Homo sapiens: one gene and its partners. The protein of the gene in region 1 interacts with the protein of each later gene in a biochemical or structural test. Each region holds a gene or a part of one and is shown in the gene's direction. Other genes may lie near its edges.

What was found.
Region 2: the proteins of PPP2CB (region 1) and TIPRL form a complex in vitro, tested with the Homo sapiens proteins (one study listed by BioGRID).
Region 3: the proteins of PPP2CB (region 1) and AXIN2 form a complex in vitro, tested with the Homo sapiens proteins (one study listed by IntAct).
Region 4: the proteins of PPP2CB (region 1) and ESPL1 form a complex in vitro, tested with the Homo sapiens proteins (one study listed by BioGRID).

Annotation. Positions count from the first base shown.
Region 1 is NC_000008.11:30,785,082-30,788,820, reverse strand, and holds the end of PPP2CB (serine/threonine-protein phosphatase 2A catalytic subunit beta isoform), read left to right. Parts: intron 1-2,513; coding exon 2,514-2,586; 3' UTR 2,587-3,205; downstream 3,206-3,739.
Region 2 is NC_000001.11:168,181,932-168,188,967, forward strand, and holds part of TIPRL (TIP41-like protein), read left to right. Parts: intron 1-1,970; coding exon 1,971-2,150; intron 2,151-2,847; coding exon 2,848-2,947; intron 2,948-7,036. UniProt on the Homo sapiens protein: May be a allosteric regulator of serine/threonine-protein phosphatase 2A (PP2A). Isoform 1 inhibits catalytic activity of the PP2A(D) core complex in vitro. The PP2A(C):TIPRL complex does not show phosphatase activity.
Region 3 is NC_000017.11:65,530,622-65,537,657, reverse strand, and holds part of AXIN2 (axin-2), read left to right. Parts: coding exon 1-334; intron 335-594; coding exon 595-789; intron 790-1,104; coding exon 1,105-1,338; intron 1,339-1,936; coding exon 1,937-2,032; intron 2,033-3,578; coding exon 3,579-3,746; intron 3,747-7,036. UniProt on the Homo sapiens protein: Inhibitor of the Wnt signaling pathway. Down-regulates beta-catenin. Probably facilitate the phosphorylation of beta-catenin and APC by GSK3B.
Region 4 is NC_000012.12:53,278,271-53,285,306, forward strand, and holds part of ESPL1 (separin), read left to right. Parts: intron 1-1,461; coding exon 1,462-1,596; intron 1,597-3,236; coding exon 3,237-3,356; intron 3,357-3,993; coding exon 3,994-4,165; intron 4,166-4,858; coding exon 4,859-4,987; intron 4,988-5,111; coding exon 5,112-5,268; intron 5,269-5,787; coding exon 5,788-5,897; intron 5,898-7,036. UniProt on the Homo sapiens protein: Caspase-like protease, which plays a central role in the chromosome segregation by cleaving the SCC1/RAD21 subunit of the cohesin complex at the onset of anaphase. During most of the cell cycle, it is inactivated by different mechanisms.

The DNA of each region.
Region 1 (3,739 bases):
AAAAAACTAAGCAACAGAAACTGTTTCTCTTGGATAGAACAACTAGGCAGGAGATGAAGGCAGGAGAAGACTTGAGCAACACTGTAAACTGACTGTATACCTCATGTCTGTAAAACAACACCCAACAACAGCAGAATACTTTCCTCTCAAGTAAACATGAAACATAGTCATATGCTAGACTGTAAAACATGCCTCAGGCAATTTAAGAAGATTAGATTCTTAAAAGGATATTCTCCAAACACAAGGAAATGAAATTAGAAATCATTAACATGGCTGGATGCTGTGGCTCACACAAGTAATCCCAACACTTTGGGAAGCCAAAGTAGGAGGATCACTTGAGGCCAGCCTGGGCAACATAGGGAGACCCCGTCTCTACAAAAAAATTTAAAAATTAGCCAGGTATGGTGCCAAGCACCTGTAGTCTCAGCTGTATGGGAGGCTGAGATGGAGGATCACTTGAGCCCAGTTGATCAAGGCTGCAATGAGCTATGATCACAGCACTACACTACAGCCTAGGCAACAGAGCAAAGACCCTGTCTCAGAAAGAAAAAAACAAAAAAAAAAACAAGAAGATTTGAAATCAGTAACCTATCTTTATACTTGAGGACCTAGAAAAAGCAGAGTAAACTAAACCTGATGTAAGCTTATGAAACGAGGTTTAGAGTAGAAATAAACAAACAGTAGAAAATCATTACAGAAAAATCAACAAAACCCAAAGTTGATGCTTTGAAAAGCCTTAACTAGACTGGCCAAGAAAAAAAGGAGTAAAGACTCACATTACCAAATCACTAGAGACCTTACTGAAATAAAAAGGATTATAAGGGAATACAATAAATAACTATATGCCAGCAAATTCAGTAACTTTGATAAAACGTACTAATTCCTAAAAAGAAACTACTGAAACTGACTCAAGAAATATGAAATCTGAATGACCTTTCAAATGTGAAAATATTGAGCCAGCATGGTGGCTCACACCTATAAATCCCAGCTTTGGGAGGCCAAGCTGAGAGGATTGCTTGAGACTAGGAGTTTGAGACCAGCCTGGACAACATAGCAGGACCTTGTCCCTATTTAATTTAAAAGAATATAAATAAATGAGTGAAAAAGTTAAAACTCCCCACAAATAAAAGGCCAAGCCCAATTGGCTTCATTGATGAAGTCCACCAAATGTTTAAAGAAAGGAATTGGCCAGGTGCGGTGGCTCTAACCAGTAATCCTAGCACTTTGGGAAGCCAAGGCAGGCAGATTGAGCCCAGGATTCAAGATCAGCCTGGGTAACATGGTAAAACCCTGTATCTACAAAGAATACAAAAATTAACCTGGTGTGGTGGCTCAGCCTATAGTCTCAGCTACTCAGGAAGCTGAAGTGGGAGGATCACCTGAGCCCAGGGAGGTTGAGGCTACAGTGAGCCATGATCACACCACTGCACTCCAGCTTGGGCAACAGAGTGAGACCCTGTCTCAAAAATAAAAACGAGTTAATGCCAATCCTTCACAAACACTTCCAAAAAACAGAAGAGGAGGACTACTGCATTCATTCTGTCACACCTGCACTATTATCCTTGATACCAAAAGTAGACAAAGGCAAAAACAGACCAGCATTTGTTACGAATACAGATATAAAATTTTCCAACATACGTACCAGCAACCTGGATCTAGCAATATGTAAAAAGATTATACACCATGAGCAAGTGGGATTTATCCCAGGAATGCTAGGTTGGTTCAAAACATGAAAATCAATATAATAAACCATATTAATATTAAGGGATTAAAAAACACATGATCATCTCAATAGAGGCACAAAAATAATTGGAAAAATCCACTAGCCAGAAACACTCAAGAAAATAGTGATATTAGGCCTGGCGCGGTGGCTCACGCCTGTAATCCCAGCACTTTGGGAGGCCGAAGCGGGTGGATCATGAGGTCAGGAGATGAGACCATCCTGGCTAACACGGTGAAACCCCGTCTCTACTAAAAAAAAATAAGAAAATTAGCCGGGCATGGTAATGGGTTCCTGTAGTCCCAGCTACTCAGGAGGCTGAGGCAGGAGAATGGTATGAACCCAGGAGGCGGAGCTTGCAATAAGCCGAGATCGTGCCAGTGCACTCCAGCCTGGGCGACAGAGCAAGACTCTGCCTCAAAAAAAAAAAAAAAAAAAGTGATATTATTATTATTATTAAATAATATTAAACAATTATTGTTTAATTATTTAAACTTGATATTATTTAATCTTTAATTATTTAAGCTTTTAAATAATAATAACATTTAGAAATTGTTATGCCAGGCACCAAACCAGACATTCTGTCTTCTTAAATTTTCACCATAGCCCTATGAAGCAGTTAGTTGGAATGGGAGCATCTGCAGTGATTTGCCCATGGCCATTCCAGCCGTAAGTGATGTAGTCATGGTGGGAAAGCAGGACTGCTGTTTCTACTACAGTGTCTTGTTCTTTATTCATTTGTTTTCTTTGCAAAGTCAGATCCTTTATTTGCTTCCTTTTTTGCCATTTACAGCCTTCAATTTGACCCAGCGCCTCGTCGTGGTGAGCCTCATGTTACACGGCGCACCCCAGACTACTTCCTATAAATTTCTCCTGGGAAACCTGCCTTTGTATGTGGAAGTATACCTGGCTTTTTAAAATATATGTATTTAAAAACAAAAAGCAACAGTAATCTATGTGTTTCTGTAACAAATTGGGATCTGTCTTGGCATTAAACCACATCATGGACCAAATGTGCCATACTAATGATGAGCATTTAGCACAATTTGAGACTGAAATTTAGTACACTATGTTCTAGGTCAGTCTAACAGTTTGCCTGCTGTATTTATAGTAACCATTTTCCTTTGGACTGTTCAAGCAAAAAAGGTAACTAACTGCTTCATCTCCTTTTGCGCTTATTTGGAAATTTTAGTTATAGTGTTTAACTGGCATGGATTAATAGAGTTGGAGTTTTATTTTTAAGAAAAATTCACAAGCTAACTTCCACTAATCCATTATCCTTTATTTTATTGAAATGTATAATTAACTTAACTGAAGAAAAGGTTCTTCTTGGGAGTATGTTGTCATAACATTTAAAGAGATTTCCCTTCATTTAAACTAAATTACTGTTTTATGTTGATCTGCATATTTCTGTATATTTGTCATGACAGTGCTTGCATCCTATTTGGTGTACTCAGCAAATAAACTTTTCATTTTAAACAAAAACATTCATTTATTGTGTTGTGCATTAAATGAAAACTTTATTTTTTCTAGACCAGGTCTTGCTCTGTCATCTGGGCTGGAGTGCAGTGGCACAGTCATAGCTCACTTCAACCTTGAACTCCTGAGCCCAAGCCATTCTCCTCCCTCAGCCTCCTGAGTAGCTGGGACTACACTCAACATACCACCACACCCAGCTAATTTGTAAAATATTTTGTAGAGACGGGATCTTGTTATGTTGCCCAGGCTGGTCTTGAACTCCTGGCCTCAAGTGGCCCTGCCAAATTCTTGAGATTATAGATGTGTGCCATCACACCTGGCCTGCTATCTTGAAACGACATAAAATCTTTCAAAGCAGGGCAATGGGACATGGCTATAGTCCCAGCTACTCAGGAGGCTGAGGTGGAGGATGGCTTGAACCCAAGAGCTTGAGGGCAGCCTGGGCAACATAGCAAGATGTCATCTCTAAAAAATAAAAAATAGGCTGGGCATGGTGGCTCATGCCTGTAATCCCATTGCTTTGGGAGGCTGAGAAAAGAG
Region 2 (7,036 bases), on another chromosome or scaffold:
TGCAGGCCTGTAATCCCAGCTACTCTGAAGGCTGAGGCACGAGAATCACTTGAACTTGGGAGGTAGAGGTTGCAGTACGCTGAGATCGTGCCACTGTGCTCCAGCCTGGATGACAGAGTAAGACTCCGTCCCCCACCCTCCGCCAAAAAAAAAAAAATGCCTTTTTTTATATGACAAAAGGAAGACTTACCCTCACCAATCCCAAATTTTTCTGTGATGCATTATCATAGATTGTAAAAACCACTAAGGTGCTAAATAAATTGGTTGGGTAAAATATTGGATTAAAGAAGCTCTTCTAATGAATATTTAAGGCACCTTAAAACCACAGGAGCTTCCTGTCTTCTCTCCTTGTAACTAGTTATACCTGTTTTTAAGTGGGAAGCTTGATGATGTTAGAAATAGGGCATTTTCAGGCCGGGCGCGGTGACTCACGCCTGTAATCCCAGCATTTTGGGAGACCGAGGCAGGTGGATCACCTGAGGTCAGGAGTTCGAGACCAGCCTGGCCAACATGGTGAAACCCTGTTTCTACTAAAAATACAAAAATTAGCCGGGCATGGTGGCACGTGCCTGTAATCCCAGCTCCTAGGAAGGCTGAAACAGGAGGATTGCTTGAATCTGGGAGGCGGAAGTTGCAGTGAGCCAAGATCGTGCCATTGCACTCCAACCTGGGCAACAGAGCGAGACTCCGTCTCAAAAAAAAAAGAGGGCATTTTGGCCTATGTTTAAGAAACTCTATATTTAGAACACTGAAGGACTGTAAATTAGTAACAGTGATTCTTTTACATATATGAGTGGAATATTTTATAGGACTGCCACATTTTTCCAGATATATTGGTTAGAATCCACAGACTCACATATTATTTCACATTTGGTATGCATTATTCAAGTTAAAACTTATTTTATGGAATCTTATGGAATATATATTCCAATTACAGTTTATTGTATCTAATCTTTTAAGTATTTAATATTTTCTATCTCCTAATAACAAAGAATAAATTTTACTTAAAATTATGATGAAAGTTAACATTGTTAGTCCTGAAGACCATTGTTAACATTGTGCAGTCCTGAAGACCTGCACCTCAAAGTTAGATCACTGATATGTGCACACAGAAATACACGTTTAGATGTAATAAATATACAATGTGTGTCCAGTTTTTTTCTTACTATTTTATCATAAGCATTTTTTCATATTATTATAGTCTCTCTTTAAACATTTGTAATGGTTCCATAATATTTCATCATATGGATATACTTTGGTTTGCATAATCATTTGTTGCTTTATAATGAAACATTCAGAGTATTTCTTTTTCATGATTATAAGTAAAGCCATTATAAGTATTAATGTGTATAATATTTTTCTGTACTTGGAATTATTCTTTAGTACAGGTATTCTAAAACTGATACTTTGGGTCATAAGTGTGTAAATTATGTTAAATTCCTGTGATTTTTTTTTTTTTTTGCTTGATTGTTGCCCCAGGGTGAAATGTAAATTGACACAATCCTTCTGAAAGTCTGTGTAGGCAAGTGCTGAGTTCCCTCATCAGTGTCAGGTGCTTTTGCTTTTTTCATCACCACGTTTTGAAACTTTTAACAATTGAGAATTTTAATGGAAAAATTATTTTCCTACAAGAGACAGTATCTTTAATTGCTTTGCTATCTTTTCTTCATACCCTCATGATATATATTATAGTAATATCTGTGTGCTATATATTATAGTAGTATAATAAGCTATTATATTACGTATTTGTATATTTATCTTATTTAGCCCACTACTTAGTACAGTGCCATATGATGATGAAAGAATGGATGATGAAAGCATTTTATAGACCTTGCAAATATATCATATTGATTAAATCATGTGCTGTGTAACTCATTCAGCAAGTAGGAAGAATTCTGTTGGGATGGAAAAGAAACAAAAATGCCAACAGCGATATAAAATTATCTCACCCGACTTTTGGTTACGTATAGATTAGCCGATGAATTACATATGCCATCTCTCCCTGAAATGATGTTTGGAGACAACGTTTTAAGAATCCAGCATGGGTCTGGCTTTGGAATTGAGTTCAATGCTACAGATGCGTTAAGATGTGTAAACAACTACCAAGGAATGCTTAAAGTGGCCTGTGCTGAAGAGTGGCAAGAAAGCAGGTGAGAATCCGGTCAATTAGGTTAAACAAAAAAGGTAATTAGGTTAAACAAAAGAGAAAAGACTTGAAAAAATATTCAGTAATGATACGTGTGTGTTGTTAGAATGAAGGGCTGGTATTATTAAACTTGAGAGTTGTATCATTCTAGAATTCGTTTTTCTCAGACATAAAAATGGAAGTTAATTACCCCACTGCTTGAATACTTGTTAAAGTGAATTACAACTGAGCTGAGCTATGTACGTTTTCGATTTTTCAGTGTTCCTTACTGAAGAGGCAGTAGGCTATACTTAATGTTCCTGTTTTTAAGAAAAAATGTTTACTTATGATATGCTTAATAAATACCCTATTTGAGAAGCATTGAAATTAAGACAACATGTTTTTCTTTGATAGTCAAATCAGCAATTATTTACTTTGTGCCTAATATGTACTAAGTACCTTAGATGATACAAATAAGTATAAACCTTTAAACCATGTCCTCAGGCTGTATACAGACTAATTGAAAAGACTACATCAGTACATGACAAGTTAAATAATAAATGCAGAAAAACTGTAAGAAAAACCTTGTACTGGTGAATTATAACAAGTGTATATATTTAATAGGATATGTTATTATAGAATATAATTTGATGTGATATATAAATACAGATAATCTCTATTCTGCATCACTGAATCTGATCCTTCTCATTTTGGTATTTGAGGACGGAGGGTGAACACTCCAAAGAGGTTATTAAACCATATGATTGGACCTATACAACAGATTATAAGGGAACCTTACTTGGAGAATCTCTTAAGTTAAAGGTAAATCTTACTTTTTTCTTTCATGAGTCATTGATTGTCTTGGACAGTCTGAGCATTAGAACTTTCTAGTAACGGGTTATTTTTTGCAACTATTTTTATCGTCCTTGTTTTCTGTTGTGGCATTCCTCAGAACCTAATGTGAGGGGGTTTTGCTTGTTGACTTATCAGTAGAAAATAAAAGACGGCATTAGTGGAAAAATTTATTTTTAAAAGTGTAGTTGGTGGCAACGGCAGACGGCCTTGTTGTTATCATTATCACTATCAAGAAACATTAAAATGTGTTTCGGGCCTTGGTAATGTATTACATGATTTAGACAGAACCTGCTAGCTTGTAGCTCACAAGTTTATAGATGAACAAATATATGAGCAAAAAGAACTTCTGGTTAGACAAAGTAGGTTTATGCCCTGTCTGCCCTGAGTATGAACCTGAAATGACTTTAGGAAGTTACTTAATTTGAGTCTCAGTTTTATCAATAAATTGGGTAAACAGAAATATCTACCTCAAAGCAGAGTTTTGATGTGAAATAATTTATGGGAAGCTCTCAATAAATTCTAAAGCTCTATATTAGTATTAAGTCCTGTGTGTGTAAGCCCTGCTTGAGAAGAGATTGGGGCCAGGCGCAGTGGCTCACGCCTGTAATCCCAGCACTTTGAGAGGCCGAGGCAGGCAGATCACGAGGTCAGGAGCTCGAGACTAGCCTGACCAACATGGTGAAACCCCTTGTCTATTAAAAAAAAAAAATTAGCTGGGTGTGGTGGCGCACACCTGTAATACCAGCTACTCAGGAGGCTGAGGGAGGAGAATTGCTTGAACCCGGGAGGTGGAGGTTGCAGTGGGCCAAGATCGCGCCACTGCACTCCAGCCTGGGTGACAGAGTGAGACTCTGTCTCAAAAAAAAAAAAAAAGAAGAGATTCGGCCAGGTGCAGTGGCTCACGCCTGTAATCCCAGCACTTTGGGAGGCCAAAGTGGGTGGATCATGAAGTCAGGAGTTCAACACCAGCCTGGTCAACATGGTGAAACCCCATCTCTACTAAAAATACAAAATTTAGCCAGGCATGGTGGAGCATGCCTGTAGTCCCAGCTACTCGGGAGGCTGAGGCAGGAGAATTGCTTGAACCCGGGAGGCAGAGGTTGCAGTGAGCTGAGATCACACTACTGCACTCCAGCCTGGGCGACAGAGCGAGACTCCGTCTCAAAAAAAAAAAAAAAAAAAAAAAAAAAAAGAGAGAGATTCATGGTAAATAACGCTAGGAAGATGGAATTGGTAGGTCTTATATTGTGAAGTTAGCTGCATTTTGAAATCTTATAGTATGACTGAAAGGAAGCAAATCTGGGCTGGGCTCAATGGCTCACGCCTGTAATCCCAGCACTTTGCGAGGCCAAGGAGGGCAGATTACTTGAGGTCAGGAGTTCGAGACCAGCTTGGCCAACATAGTGAGACCGCACCTCTACTAAAAATGTAAAAATTAGCCAGGCCTGGTGGCGTGTGTCTGTAATCCCAGCTACTTGGGAGGTTGAGGCAGGAGAATCACTTGAACCCAGGAGGTAGAGGTTGCAGTGATCCGAGATCACGCCACTGCACTCTAGCCTGGGCAACAGAGAAAGGCTCTGTTTCAGAAAAACAATAAGTAAAATAAAATAAAGCAAATTTGGTTTAGGTTGAATGTCTCTAAATATCACAGACTATTATATAGAATGAATTTATTTCAGCGTAACCTGAAATATTTATATTAAAAGTAGCTATTGGAAACCCTATGTCATCCGGGCACAGTGGTTCACACCTGTAATCCCAGCACTTTGGGAGGCCGAGGCAGGCAGATCACCTGAGGTTAGGAGCTGGAGACTGGGGAGGCTGAGGCAGGAGAATTGCTTGAACCCAGGAGGCAGAGTTGCAGTGAGCCAAGATCACGCCACAGTGCTCCAACCTGGGCTTCAGAGTGAGACTCCATCTCAAAACAAGGAAACCTGATATCATATGTTGGTGCTTAGGCAGAAATGTTAAGAAGATAGTGTTGTGTCTGGGCCCCTTTTCTCTGCAGAAATTTTTAGAGTCTCATGAAGATAAAAGTTCATAGCAGGAACTTAATGATTGTTATCTTCAGTTTCTGCTATTATTACAGTCCAAGCTTTAACTATTTTTCTGTGCTTCCAGGAAAAAACTCATTCATTCATTCAACAGATATTTCTTGAGCTCTTGCTCTATGCCAGGCACTAATGCTAGGAGCCTTGGATACAGCAGAGCAGACAAAAATTCCTCCTTTACAGTCTAATGGGAGAGCAAGGTTATTTTAGTCCCTTATACTACTTCATAGATTAGTGTTCTCCTCCCTCCTCTCTTCTGATTGAAAAACTTTGTAGAGACCATTTAATATTTCATTGCCAGGAGTGAGGAAATGGGAACTTGTTTTAAACCCATACAATAATGATGATGACTTACTTTGTGGACTGACTTAGGAAAAGCCTCCTGGAGGTTATGAAGCAGCATTAGGTGTGACCAAGTGAGAACCACAGCTGTACAAACAAGGAGTGTGAGAGTAGTAGAAGGCAAAAAGCATTTGTTCAGTACTCTCCTATTGATACTTCAGCCTATAATGTGATTTGTTCTGAGGTGTTGCTGATAAATGTCAATGTGATTACCCACTCACTGGTGGTAATGAGCTCAGGCTTTGGCAAAACACAGATCTGGGTTCAAAATCCCAGCACCATCATTTGCCAGCTTGGAAAAGTAATTTAGTCTTACTTAGCCTTGTTTCAGTCACTTTGTTAAACTAGGGTAATACTAGTTGTGAAGTAGGAAATAAAATTATGTATGTAGGCTGGGTGTAGTGGCTCATGCCTGTAGTCCCAGCACTTTGGGAGGCTGAGATGGATCACTTGAGCTCAGGAGTTCAAGACCAGTCTGGGCAACATGGTGAAACCCCATCTCTACAAAAAATAGAAAAATTGGCGGGTCTGGTGGCACGTGTCTATAGTCCCAGCTACTCAGGAGGCTGAGGTGGGAGAATCAGTTGAGCCCAGGAAGGCGAGGCTGCAGTGAGCTGTGATTGTGCCACTGTACTCCAGCCTGGGTGACAGAGCGACACCCTATCTCAAAACAGTGTGTGTTTTGCAGTAAGATCTCAATAAATGGCAGCTGTTACTATGATAATATAGTATATCAAGTATTAGGGAACCTAAGTTAATATTGTAATACCTAGAATAAAAGTAGATATATTATCTATGGTATATTATTATATTAAATAGCAGCCCAAATGGACTAAGGCCTAATAATTTCAATCACCTCTGGAATCCCTAGTGTCTTTTATTTCAGTTGGTTCTGGGTTATGACATCTAGGCTTCTAATTTGCCTCTTTATTTTCATTTCAGTTCTAGGATGATGGTGTTTTCCTTCAGAGAGGATTTTTGTTTAGTTCTGACAGGCGCTCGAGAATATTCATAGTCAAGGACAGAGCTCTGCAAACTTCTTCTGTAAAGAGTCAGACGTAAATATTTTAGGCTTTGTGGGCCTTAGAGTCTCTGTTGCAGCAACTCAGCTGTGCTATCATAGTCTAAATCACTCATAGACAATATATAAATGAATGGGCATGGCTATGCTTTAATAAAACTTTATGGACAGTGAAATTTGAATTTCATGTAATTTTTATGTGTCATGAAATATTTTTCTTTTGATTTTTTTTCTCCAATTATTTAGCCATTATTAGCTTGCAGCCCATAAAAATAGGTAACAGGGCAGATGTGAGCTGCATGTCTTAGTTTGCCTGCCTTGGTCTAGGACCAGAGTTTGAGGTGTACTGGGCCTGCAGATAAGAAGCTCTGAGGCTGGGCACAGTGGCTCATACCTGAATCCCAATACTTTAGGAGGCCGAGGCAGGCGGAACACCTGAGGTCAGGAGTTCGAGACCAGCCTGGCCAACATGGCAAAACCCTGTATCTACTAAAAACACAAAAAAATTAGCCAAGCGTTGTGGCATGTGTGTGTAATCCTCGCTACTTGGGAGGCTGAGGCACAAGAATTGGTTGAACCCAGGAGCTGGAGGTTGCAGTGAACTGAAATGGTGCCACTGCATTCCAGCCTGGGCAACAGAGC
Region 3 (7,036 bases), on another chromosome or scaffold:
ATAGCCCCCGCTCCCGCTCCCCGGACCACCACCACCACCACCATTCGCAGTACCACTCCCTGCTCCCGCCCGGTGGCAAGCTGCCTCCCGCGGCCGCCTCGCCGGGCGCCTGCCCCCTCCTCGGGGGCAAAGGCTTTGTGACCAAGCAGACGACGAAGCATGTCCACCACCACTACATCCACCACCATGCCGTCCCCAAGACCAAGGAGGAGATCGAGGCGGAGGCCACGCAGCGGGTGCACTGCTTCTGCCCTGGGGGCAGCGAGTATTACTGCTACTCGAAATGCAAAAGCCACTCCAAGGCTCCGGAAACCATGCCCAGCGAGCAGTTTGGGTAAGTGCCGGGCGGACCGCAGTGTCCCGTGTGGGGCTTGTCTCCCAGCCAGGTCCATGGGCAGGTGTGAGGTGGGAGCCGCATTACAGGCATTTAGTTTCTAAGAGGGCGGCAGAGTGCACGGCCGGGTGAGGGTGCGGGGAGCAGGTGCATGGGTCTTTCGTGTCACCAGCCCCCCGACTTGCTGAATTGTCTGATTCTAGGAGTCCCGGAGATTTAACCGGGTCTCTGGGTTGGGTGTGGTTCTTGGTTCCCCACAGCGGCAGCAGAGGCAGTACCTTGCCCAAACGCAATGGGAAAGGCACGGAGCCGGGCCTGGCCCTGCCCGCCAGGGAAGGAGGGGCCCCCGGCGGAGCTGGGGCCCTGCAGCTTCCCCGGGAGGAAGGAGACAGGTCGCAGGATGTCTGGCAGTGGATGCTGGAGAGTGAGCGGCAGAGCAAGCCCAAGCCCCATAGGTAAACACCGCTTGCCGCCGCCGCGGCCGCGAGGGTCATGGGCACTCAGTACGGAGGTATTGTGGGAATGGCTGTTTTTGCAGTCCGCGGAATACAAATGTGACTATTTGCTCCTGCCATCTTAATATTAAACGTTGGACTGAGCAGACCACAAAAATGTCATGTTTTGGCACTGACCCCTGTTCATGTTATGGTAGTTTTTTTTTTAACTCTCTCTCTGAGCAGAATAGACAAGTTTCTATTGAAGTCACATTTTCCAGTTCTTCTAACCCAGTTTCTTTCCTTCTGTTTTCTCTCTGCTCATTCCTTGTTTAGTGCCCAAAGCACAAAAAAGGCCTACCCCTTGGAGTCTGCCCGCTCGTCTCCAGGCGAACGAGCCAGCCGGCACCATCTGTGGGGGGGCAACAGCGGGCACCCCCGCACCACCCCCCGTGCCCACCTGTTCACCCAGGACCCTGCGATGCCTCCCCTGACCCCACCCAACACGCTGGCTCAGCTGGAGGAGGCCTGTCGCAGGCTAGCTGAGGTGTCGAAGCCCCCAAAGCAGCGGTGAGTGGAAGTGAAGGGTCCTAGGTTGAGGCAGGGATTGGGTTTGGGTGGAGACCTGGTCTGTGGCTAATGGGGAGGGCCTCTCTTTCTGCCTGGGTCTCAAACCCTCCCATGAGAAGAAGAATTACTTATGGATGAGTAAGCTGCTGCTTTCCAGCTTCTAGAAATTGTTCCCTTCAGTTATGTTCATTCTACTAGAGTTAAGCCAGGATCTGTGAGGCAAGTCATGCCTAGAATTGGGAGAATGAATTTCAGCAATTGCTTACAAATCCCATTCCTTACAAATGTCTTGATTGTTTAAGGCTGGTTAGTTGAGTATATAAGAAGCTGTGAGATGGAGGATCAAGAGTCCTCAGCCCTTTGCTGGGGCTGAGAATGTCCCATCCTGGGCTCCCAGGGGGGCTTAGAATGGCTGTTCCAAGACGTCTTCCTGGCCTCTTCAGCCACTGTTAACCCAGGGTCTTGGTTGGGTCTCCGTAAGGATGGAAGTCGGGTTCGTGTCTCTTCAGGAGGCCAAATAGTAATTTTCTGTCTGCTTTTCAATTGCTCTGGGGACAACAGTGTACCTCTAAATCCCTCGCCCTGGCTGTGTCCTCAGGTGCTGTGTGGCCAGTCAGCAGAGGGACAGGAATCATTCGGCCACTGTTCAGACGGGAGCCACACCCTTCTCCAATCCAAGCCTGGCTCCAGAAGAGTGAGTGTCTTTACCTGACATTACTGAGATCTGCCGAGTGCTTTATGTTTCAGAATATTCGCTATCTGGAGTTTCATTTTCATGAAACTTTTTTTGGTTTTTAAAATCACTTTGATTTTAGCGCTAGTGATGAGGAACAGTAAACGTAGATGTTGCCATCCATGTCCTGCCGACAAATGCATCATAGCAAAAGTTTTTCTGGTCATACACAAATCAAAAGCTGGGACATGAAGCCATTAGCAGAAGTGTAGAAGGGACCTCAAATTCAGCTGGAAAAGTTGCCCCCATTCAACTTGCAATTTAGTAGTACTGGAAACATTTGTCACCCCTGAGCAGAAAGATCATTCTCCACTGTGGCAGAGGTGGAGGGGACCATCCTTGTGTTTTTGTTTGGAGAAGACAGAATATCTTCCCCCAAATTGGGCAGTGATTCTTTTTGTAAATTTAGTCTCTTTCAAAGTAGGTTGAGGAGCCTGCTCGTTTAATTACTGGATGGTGCAATTAAAAAGAAATCTGCTAAAGAGATCTAAAATGGTCTGTATCAAGTTTTCTTTCTTAGTGTCTTCATCCTGAGCAATGAGCAATGTTTGAAGTCCTCAATAGGCCACTGCCCTGGACCCTTTCATTGTTTCAATTGGTTGACCCTAAGTGTACCAGCTCTCTGGGTCTGGGCCAGCCACTTTTTTTTTTCTTTTTGAGACAGAGTCTCGCCCTGTTGCCCAGGCTGGAGTGCAGTGGCTTAATCTTGGCCCACTGCAGCCTCCGCCTCCTGGGTTCAGGCAGTTCTCCTGCCTCAGCCTCCCGAGTAGCTGGGATTGCAGGCGCCCACCACCACACCCAGCTCCTTTTTTGTATTGTTAGTAGAGACAGGGTTTCGCCATGTTGGCCAAGCTGGTCTCAAACTCCTGACCTCAAGTGATCCGCCCACCTCGGCCTCCCAAAGTGCTGGGATTACAGGCGTGAGCCACCACGCCCGGCCTAGCAGCCTTTTTTTCAAGCCATTCTACAAAATCTCAGAAGAAATGGGGAAATGGACATGACTGTGTGATAACCCCCATTAGTTGTTCTCATTCTGCTGGAATAAGGGGTGGGCTTTAGGCATTCTGAGATCATGCCATCCCAAAGGTGTCCTGCTCTGGGTTTGTCTCTTTAGCACTCTCCAATCCAGGTGAGACCCGGCATCTCTGTGATAATTTCTCTTCTCTCATCTTCTTGAGGAAGCACCCCATTTATGCCAGCCTGAAAGAGGCCGCCGTATACTTTCATTTGGTGGCGGTGGGGGAAATGATACCAATTTGTACAACCAAAAGGAAATCATCCTTTTCTGCATGCTGCATGCAGCACATGTGGGGTTGGACTGTGTGTCCCCCAGAGCTGCCTGACTCTGGGATGTGGGGCTCTGCCCCAGCCCCCACTTTGGGTTTACAATTGCAGCCCTAGTGTTTGGATACCCTGTCACTTATGCACATGTGCGCACGTGTGTGTTTGCTTTAGATGTGTGTCTGCTTTAAAATGCTAAACTTGTTCCATTCCATCTTATTTTCAGTCACAAAGAGCCAAAGAAACTGGCAGGTGTCCACGCGCTCCAGGCCAGTGAGTTGGTTGTCACTTACTTTTTCTGTGGGGAAGAAATTCCATACCGGAGGATGCTGAAGGCTCAGAGCTTGACCCTGGGCCACTTTAAAGAGCAGCTCAGCAAAAAGGGAAATTATAGGTAAGAGTCCTGTGGCTTTTTTCTGCTCTCAGTTTGTTTGCTCAGAACCAAGAGCCAGAGCCTGGAGCAGCTCCCCTGGCTGAGCAGACCTAGGTGGGGCAGGGTGGGAGGGGGCTCAGCAGGCGCTGGGGGAGGCTCCCTTCTCATTTCTTCTCTCCCCTCACCGCTAGCAGCAATAACGAAGCAGCAGCCGCAAGAGGGAGGCTGCGTGGAGGGTTCTCTGGGGGACCTGGCCAGGCTCTTTCCACCAGGTGAACCAGACTGAGGAGAGAAAAGGAGCAGCTGCTTGCACCGACAGGAGAGTGGGGCTCAGGCCACACTGCAGAGGCTTTACCTGCAATTGAGGGGCTTGTGGGCGAGTGGGGAGCAGGGAGCAAAAAGAGGGACAGGCACACTGATTAGGAGGGAGGGTCTGGAAGCGCCGCCCTACTGGCTTGAGTTTAGGAGAGACCCCCACATTGAAGGCTCCAAATAGTCAGGAACCATGCCTAGGAAAAGTCCCCCGTGTTTTTCTTACCCTGCCTTTCCACCTGAACAGCCTCCCTGGATTTTATGGGCCATTAGAAGCAGAGATGCGCCTTTGTCCATAACAAAGAAGGGGCTGGACCTGCGGGTGGGCACAGGGTGAATAGGGCAGTCTACTCCTCCTGTCCAGGCCTGGGCCCCGCTGCCTTCTCCCCTGCAGGGGCTTCAGGAAGGGAACTTCCTGGTCTCCTTACCTTGTCTGCAGAGTGGACGGAGGTGCCCTTGAGAAGGTCCATGCTGACTTTTTAGGGCCCTTGAGAGGGTTCAAGAGCTGAGGAGGATGAGGGCCAGCCCTAGGCCATTCCTTCTCTTGATCATTTCCCTCGTAAGGAGCAGGTGATGACTCTGCCTCAGTTCATCTGGAGTCCTCCCTTGCCCCTCTCCATGGCCTGCAGCCCAAGAGAATGTGTGGATTCTGCTCCAGTTCTGTCCCAGGTTTCCCAGGTTTAGGGCTCCAGGCTGGGACAAGGGTGAGACAGGGGCACCCTAGTTTAAGGAGGTGCTCACTCTGGGGTCTACACCCAAGACAGAGTTCCAACTCCTCAGCTGTGTGCTGTTGTCCCTGTGCCAGGACCACAGTCTATTCCCAGGTGTGAACCCGTTGCCGCCACCAGGGCCAGGGGTGTGAGTGGAAAACTCTGAATAGCACTTGGTAACCTGCCAGGTGGGCATGGGCTCCTGGACGGGGATGAGTCCACCTGCAGGGCTCTGAGACACCCTCCCCTCTAGAGCAGGCCTTGTATAGTTTTACCAGCCACCTTCATCTGGGAGTTAGTTTGGGCGGGGGCTCAAAGTGATTCTCTTTGGAGTGGGGAGGGGATGGAGGTTGGACTGAGCCCCTGGAGGTAACTGGCCAGCAGGGCGTGTTGCTGGGTCTGGATAGTCCCTTTTATACCTGGGCAGAGACAATTGTGAAAAGGTATCAAAGGGGTGGGGGAACAGGCCTGGCTGCTGCTGCTGCTGCTTTTATCTTGAAAAGACACAAGGTGAAACTAATGACACAAGTGTGTCCCTCTGGGGATTCATTTTGATCTTGGCTTTGTCTCGGCTGGACTTCGAGTGGAACTGCAGGTGACCTTGGAGAAGAGCCATGTGGCGCTGGCATAGGCTTGTGGGGAAAGTGCCTCCTTCAGCTGCTGTGGCCACATCTGGCTCTGATTTTTTTTTTTTCTCCCTGAGGCACAGTTAATAAGCCTGGCTTTGAAGCCCTGGCCTCCCCTTTAATGCACAAAGACTTGCACAAATGGTCAACTCTCCGATCCTCTCCAGTTCTTTCCTGAGTGGATCAGGCTGTGGGAAGGCCCTCCCAGCTGCCTTATCTCTGCAGGGCCTGAGCTAGACTCAGTGTCCTCCTGGGGTAGGACAGGGACACAGGGTGTCACGCCTCACCCTCCCAGCAGGGCTGGTGCTTCAACATCTCAATTTGTACAAATACATCCCCCCTTCAAAAAAATAAAAAAGACCCAGTGAGGTTGGGGCCGTGGAGCAGGGGTGGGAGGTGGGGGGGACCTGGGATGCGTTGAGTAATCTCAACATGGCAGGGGTTCAAAAAGCAAACAGTCCCTTCAGACGCGCCAGACGCTGTTGGTGCCAGATGTCAGAAGAAAGCAAAGTTTGCCACATGAAGCATGTTGCAGTGGAAAAGCCTGTTTCTTGGAGAAAATGAGGGCAGTGCAGTGTGTTTGAAGTCCTGGGGGTGGGGCTGAGAGAATGTGGCCTCTCTCCTCTCTGGAGGAGGTTGCAATTATGTAAAAGGTCGCTGCGTGTTTGCTCAGACATGCTGTGAAAGCCCAACTTGGTAAACCCTGGAGGGGTCGGAGCTGGGGCCAAAGGGGTCTGACGGAGGGTGGCGTTGGGATTTGAGCCTCTTATGTGGAGAAGTGACTTTTCCCCCCACTGTCCTGAGTCTCCTGTGCACAGAGCCCCTCCCCATTTTCTCACTGTCTCCTCTCACGCTCCCCCGAGAATTTTGACCCCTTGACATGACGTGTCTTCAGTGCTGCCTAGTCAGAGCCATGCCGTTGTTCACCCCACTGCATTAGCTGGGTCAGGAATGCTAAAAACAAAGAACCTTGACTAAACCCAGCTGTTCACTGTATTTAGCCTTATCTCCTACGAAAGTATTTGGCTTGCCTTTATTAAAGAGGGAAAAAATTGAGCTCTAACCAAGGGGAGTTAATTTTTTTTTTTTTAAAGGGAAAAGACAAAGCCCAACCATAACCCTGAGACACAATTAAATGCTTGAAAGGTTCTCCCATCCCCCCAGGGGACTGTGACCTTCCCTCTGTGAGTGGCCTTTATGGGCTGGAAATGACAGCTTGCAGGGGCAAGTTTAATCCCTCTGAGGGGTCTCCCTTGGCTGGGGACAGGGAAGGAAGAGGCCCTTGCTTAATTTCCTCGGAAGGGGTTTAGGGGTGGGCCTGGCCCAAGAGGACAGCAGTTGTTTCCGAATGTGGCACTCCTGAGAGGCCAGGCATTTGCATCTGTACAATTAAACAGCCTCAGAAGAAAGAACGCTGGGGAGGGATGAAAGGAGCCTTTAATCAACGGGCATAATAGAAGGGCCTTTGGTGTTTGACCCTGGAGGGATGGGATGGGAGAAGAGGCCTGGAAATGGGGAGAAGAGGGGAGGGCATCATGGGGCCAGTGCCGTCTGTTCGGCCCTGGGAAGCTGCGCTGGGCTGGCTTGCCTCCTGTGTGGCTGTGCCAGGGCCATCCAGGAGTGTTGCACTTGGGACCTGGAGGATGGGAAGGCCGAGAGGCCT
Region 4 (7,036 bases), on another chromosome or scaffold:
TTAGCTTTAGTCTGGGCAACACGGCGAAACCCCGTCTCTACAAGAAATAAAAAAAATATAGCCCGGTGCGGTGGCATGTGCCTGTAATCCCAGCTACTCAGGTGGCTGAGGCAGGAGAATCCCTTGAGCCAGGAGGTAGAGGTTGCAGTGAGCCAAGATCGCGCCACTGCACTCCATCCTGGGGGACAGAGCAAGATGCTGTTTCACGCTATTTCATTAAAAAAAAAAAAGTTAGCTTTAATTATTAGATGATTTGTTACCTATCAGAAAAATACATAGATGCCTTTAGACACAATTTTACATTCTTACATTCTTATGTGTGCCTTCTTTTTTTTTTTCAAGATGGAGTCTCACTCTGTCGCCCAGGCTGGAGTGCAGTGGCGCAATCTGGGCTCACTGCAACTTCCGCCATCTGGGTTCAAGTGATTCTCCTGCCTCAGCCTCCTGAGTAGCTGGGACTACAGGCACGCAACCACGCCTGGCTACTTTTTTGTATTTTTAGTATAGACAGGGTTTCACCATATTGGCCAGGCCGGTCTCGATCTCCTCAGGTGATCCACCCGCCTCAGCCTCCCAAAGTGCTGGGATTACAGGCGTGAGCCACCGCACCCAGCTTTCCGCCCCGCCCCCCCGCCGAGATAGAGTCTTGCTCTGTTACCCAGGCTGGAGTGCAGTGGCGTGATCTCAGCTCACTGCAACCTCCACCTCCTGGGTTCAAGCGATTCTCCTGGCTCACTCAGCCTCCTGAGTAGCTGGGACTACAGGCGCATACCACCACACCCTGCTAATTTTGTATTATTGGTAGAGATGGGGTTTCACTATGTTGGCCAGGCTGATCTCGAACTCCTGATCTCAGGTGACCCGTCTGCCTCAGCCTTTCAAAGTGCTGGGGTTACAGGCATGAGCCACTGTGCCTGGCCTATAAGGCCATGTACATTCTTATTTCAGGGAGTTTCACAAAATTCCTGAAGCTCTACCCTAGACTCCACATTAGGAAACAAACAAACAAACAAAAAGCCTTTATACATGCTGTTAACTATGAGCTATTAAACCATATTTCTAGCAGGGGAAGCTACCTCAGCCCTAGATTTGAGACTTGGTTCTGCCACATACCTGTTATATGAACTTAGACAAGCAACTTAACCCATGTGAGTCTTAGCTTCCTGTACTGTAAAATTGGGATTAGACTTGTTATGAAGGTTAAATGCACTGATGCATGTAAGCCTGGGCACAGTGCCTGGCACATAGTAAGAACTCAGAAAATCCTGGCTATTGATGATGAATGGCATCTAGGCTTTAAAACAGTAGGGGTGGGGTGATGATTGCTTCATCTGGGTAACTACATTCCACCCAGGCCCTGAGGTCAAACTACAGTCCAAGGTCCCAAAGGGCTGGGGAGCAGAGGGTAGAAATAGAGGCTTGAGCAGGGGTGGAGTAAACTTGGCTGCTTCTGCTGACCAGCCCATGCAGGCTCTGGAGGTCCTCCTGCTGCTACGGATTGTCTCTGAGAGACTGAAGGACCACTCGAAGGCAGCTGGCTCCTCCTGCCACATCACCCAGCTCCTCCTGACCCTCGGCTGTCCCAGCTATGCCCAGGTGAGTGCCCAACCAGCCTAGTCTGGGGACTGCAGGGGGCCCGTAGCTTTAGAGGCCCACCTCTGAGAAGACAGGATATCAAAGGGGCAGCTTCTCGGCCTTTTACCACCACAACTGGCTGGAGAATTGTGGAGTGTGGAGCAGTTGGAGGCAGCTGTAAGAAGGGGAGTCATCTTTGTCCTTCCTGCAAAACCAGTTGTTCATTAAGTTTACAGACTGCTGCAGGAACCTACCGCCAGTCTTGTATTTCCTAACTGGTTCTGTTGCCCTAGTTGATGCTTCATTGCTCATGTAAAGCTATCACAGTGTCTCCTGGTTGGTCTCCTTGCCTCCAGTTTCTCCCTTTTCTACTTCGTCTTCTTAACGACCACTGGTAGGCACAGGTGTGATGTAATCTCTTTCCTGCTTAACCCTGTTCCCTTTTGCCCCAATAATACTTGCCAGCGCTTACGGCTGCAGTGTTTACCCCTGGATAACTTTGCCACAAAATATCTCACTCTTACTATTTTTGCATCACTCTAGTATATTGACTTTGGAAACAGAAGACATCATTCTGTTTATAGCATTCTGTTTTTAGTGGTGTCATTTCCATTTCCATTTCCATTTCCACTTCCACGTCACCCTCCCGAGTAACTGGGACTACAGGTACATGCCACCACACCTGGCTAATTTTTAAATGTTTTGTAGAGACAGAGTCTCACTATGTTGCCCAGGCTGGTCTTGAACTCCTGGGCTCAAGTGATCTCCCACCTCAGCCTCCCAAAGTACTGATAATACAGGCATGAGCCACCGTGCCCAGCTACTGCTTACTCTGTATATAGCTTTAATCTAAAAGTGGTTAACCAGGCTGAGCGCAGTGGCTCACACGTGTAATCCCAGCATTTTGGGAGGCTGAGGTGGGCAGATCACCTGAGGTCAGGAGTTGGAGACCAGCCTGACCAACATGGAGAAACCCCGTCTCTACTAAAAATACAAAATTAGCCAGGTATGGTGGCGCATGCCCGTAATCCCAGCTACCTGGGAGGCTGAGACAGGAGAGCACTTGATCCCGGGAGGCGGAGGTTGCGGTGAGCTGAGATCACACCATTGCACTCCAGCCTGGGCAACAAGAGCGAAACTCCGTCCTAAAAAAAAAAAAGTGGTTAACCAAGTGTTAAATGGACATTTTAGAGAGTGAATCAATAACTCCTATGCAGATTATAATATCTGAAATAATGTAATATTTATTGGACATGTTGAACATTTTGCTTGTAAATACTTTACTCCACTTTTTTTTTTTTTTTTTTTTTGAGACGGAGTCTCACTCTGTTGCCCAGGCTGGAGTGCAGTGGCGCGATCTCCATTCACTGCAACCTCTGCCTCTCGGGTTCAAGTGATTCTCATGCCTCAGCCTCCCGAGTAGCTGGGATTACAGGCGCGTGCCACCACACCTGGCTAATTTTTGTATTTTTAGTAGAGATGGGGGTGTCACCATGTTGGCCAGGCTGGTCTTGAACTCCTGACCTCAGGTGATCCGCCCACCTTGGCCTCCCAAAGTGCTGGGATTACAGGTGTGAGCCACATGGCCACCCTTATTTACTCCAGTTTTGTTTGAAGAGCCTGGCTGCCTTTCCTCATGTGCCCTCTGATTGCTTCCTTAGTTACACCTGGAAGAGGCAGCATCGAGCCTGAAGCATCTCGATCAGACTACTGACACATACCTGCTCCTTTCCCTGACCTGTGATCTGCTTCGAAGTCAACTCTACTGGACTCACCAGAAGGTATTTCTCACTTTCTTAAACTCCGAAGGCCCTGGGTATTAGAAAGAATTTAGGATTTTCTTGATATTTGCCTGGCTTTTGAGATTTCCCTGGAGCTAGGCAGTATGTTCCTGACCCTGAGAGGCAGGCATATTTCCTAGCCTTGCCCTCGCCAGCGATTTGCTCACCAGTCCTCCTCTGGTAGAGATACAGTCCTTTTCCTTCTTCAGGGGCAAGGGGGAAAGTCTGTCCTGTGACGAAAAGCTGGGACAATGGTGATCCTGGGAAGGCATGGGAGCTCTGGACTAGAAATCCAGGGGATGGCAAAGACTTGAGTTTTCTCCCAAACTAGTTGTGTGACTTGGGCACGTCTTCTACCTTCTCATGCTCTAGTTTCTTCTCTACGTTTTTATCATTCCTAAATTGGCGGACAAGTCACTGGTGAGGGCAAAGCTAGGAACTGTTACTGCTTCTCAGGGTCAGGAACATTCTGCCTAGGTCCAGGGAGATCTCGAAAGCCAGGCAAATATTCAGAAAATTCTAAAATCTTTCTAATACCCAGGGCCTTCAGGGATGGGGCCACGTAATCTCCAGGGCCTCTCAAGCTCTGGAGTGCCTGACTGCCTTACTGCCTCCTCTGGCTCCTTCTCTCCTTCAGGTGACCAAGGGTGTCTCTCTGCTGCTGTCTGTGCTTCGGGATCCTGCCCTCCAGAAGTCCTCCAAGGCTTGGTACTTGCTGCGTGTCCAGGTCCTGCAGCTGGTGGCAGCTTACCTTAGCCTCCCGTCAAACAACCTCTCACACTCCCTGTGGGAGCAGCTCTGTGCCCAAGGTGAAAGAATAGGGTGGATGGCCCCCCTTGGATGACATGTATGGTCTGTCTGCTGTCAGCTCTTCTCAAACCTCATCCCCTCTGCTGGCTAACTATGTGGCCCAGCCTACCTAGAACCTGCACAGAGTAGGCCTGGGATAGCAGATGGGTTTCAGTTTGCCTGCTGACTCTAAACAATTGGTGACTGCCTGGAATACTAGGCTGAAAGGATTTTTTTTTCTTTTCTTTTTTTTCTAAGACGGAGTTTCGCTGTTGTCACCCAGGCTGGAGTGCAATGGTGCAATCTCAGCTCACTGCAACCTCTGCCTCCTGGGTTCAAACGATTCTCCTGCCTCAACCTCCTGAGTAGCTGGGATTACTGGCATGCGCCACTACGCCCGACTAATTTTTGTATTATTAGTAGAGGTGGGGTTTCACCATGTTGGCCAGGCTGGTCTCAAACTCCTGACCTCGGGTGATCCGTCTGCCTCAGCCTCCCAAAATGCTGGGATTACAGGCTTGGGCCACTGCGCCCAGCCAGCTGAAAGGATTCTGAGACCCCAGGGGATCTCAGAGGGAAGGAGTTATGAGATTGATTAGCTCTGCCTGCCTTAATGCAGAAGGAAGCATGGGAAGCAGGCTTTGCTGCCTTAGTAGCTAAAAGTGGTGAAGTTCTGGCTGCATCTTCTCCCTTTTTCACCCCACCCACCACAGGCTGGCAGACACCTGAGATAGCTCTCATAGACTCCCATAAGCTCCTCCGAAGCATCATCCTCCTGCTGATGGGCAGTGACATTCTCTCAACTCAGAAAGCAGCTGTGGAGACATCGTTTTTGGACTATGGTGAGTCTGGGGAGGACAGCAGGGCCCTCTTGGAATGGACAGGCTATGTGAGAGGGCTGCGGTTTTTTCTCCAGAGGATCCACACTGTGGCTGAGTGATGGTGGTCTTGTCTCTTTTGCTACAGGTGAAAATCTGGTACAAAAATGGCAGGTTCTTTCAGAGGTGCTGAGCTGCTCAGAGAAGCTGGTCTGCCACCTGGGCCGCCTGGGTAGTGTGAGTGAAGCCAAGGCCTTTTGCTTGGAGGCCCTAAAACTTACAACAAAGCTGCAGATACCACGCCAGTAAGTACAGGGCCAGAGGATATGGCAATGATGGCACCAAAGTGCCATGCACCCTTGAACATGGATTCCAAACTGTTCCACAGATTACATGCTATGTTTAGATACATTCGTGGAAAAAGGCATTCCACAGCTAAATAAGTGGGAAATGCTGAGTTAATCAAGGTTAGATGTTTTTATTTCCTGTAGGACTCTCGTGTCCTTCAGTATGCGGATGTGCCTTGCAAATCTCCAAAAGGGAGATCTAGTGTACAGTGTTTCCCTAAGAATGTTTTCCCACAGGATTCTTTTATTGAGGAATGCAGTTTGGGAAATCCTGTCCCAAGGCACAAGGAGAGTTGGGATTAGAGAGAAGTGTAGAGGGTTTTCCCCAGGGAGCCTTTAAGTCAGCTTAAGGGAGTGAATGCCTTTTGGAGGCAGGGAAGGACTCAGGTAGCTTGGCCTGGGAAAGAGGCAAAGAGAAAGACTCTCCAGGAAAACAAAGGATTCCTCTGATTGGTTCTCCTCTCCTCTCTCAACAAGGTGTGCCCTGTTCCTGGTGCTGAAGGGCGAGCTGGAGCTGGCCCGCAATGACATTGATCTCTGTCAGTCGGACCTGCAGCAGGTTCTGTTCTTGCTTGAGTCTTGCACAGGTGAGCAGCCATGTCCCCATGACCATAGGCGGTGCTGAAATGACACACACTACAGCACATCTTTCTATGTAAAGGTTTCGTTGCCTTTTTTTATTTTTGAGACAGAGTCTCACTTTATTACCCAGGCTGGAGTGCAGTGGCGTGATCTTGGCTCACTGCAACCCCTGCCTCCTGCCTCCTAGGTTCAGGTGATTCTCCTGCTTCAGCCTCCCAAGTAGCTGGGACTACAGGCATGCGCCACCACACCCGGATAATTTTTTTTATTTGTAGTAGAGATGAGGTTTCACTATGTTGGCCAGGCTGGTCTCGAACTCCTGACCTCAGGTGATCCACCCGCCTCGGCCTCCTAAAGTGCTGGGATTACAGGCATGAGCCACCGCTCCCGGCCTTTGTTCCCTTTTTAATCAGATACTGACTTCTGGTCCCAGGGCAACATTCCCTTGACTTTAGTCCAACCATTGGTCTCCCTCTTTCAGAGAGCCTGTCCCAGACTTACCCTAGTTCTAGTTTTCAGTGCTTCCTAATACATTTTGGCTATTTAAATTTGATTTAGATAATATTTAGGGCCGGGCTCGGTGGCTCATGCCTGTAATCCTAGCACTTTGGGAGGCTGAGGCAGGCGGATCATGGGGTCAGGAGTTCAAGACCAGCCTGGCCAACAAAGTGAAACCCCATCTCTACTAATAATACAAAAATTAGCCAGGCATGGTGGCGGGCACCTGTAATCCCAGCTACTCAGAAGGCTGAGGCAGGAGAATAGCTTGAACCTGGGAGGCGGAGGTTGCAGTGAGGAAGATTGCACCATTGCACTCCAGCCCGGGTGACAGTGCGAGACTCTGACTCAAAAAAAAAAAAAAAAAGAAGAAAGAAAGAAAGAAAGATAATATTTAGAATTCAGTCCTCAGTCACACTAGCCACACTTCATGTGCTCAATAGCCACATGGCTAGTGGCTACCGTATTGAGTAGCACAAACATATCCTCAGGAGGGCTGAAGCTAATAATAAAACATTGCATTGATGGCACATTTTGTCTCCCCAATCACATATACTTCTAGTACTTCATTTGCCCCACACTAGACCTCATAAAGCTGAGTGGGAGCATAGATTATTTTCATTTGTTAAATGAGAAAGTTGAGAAG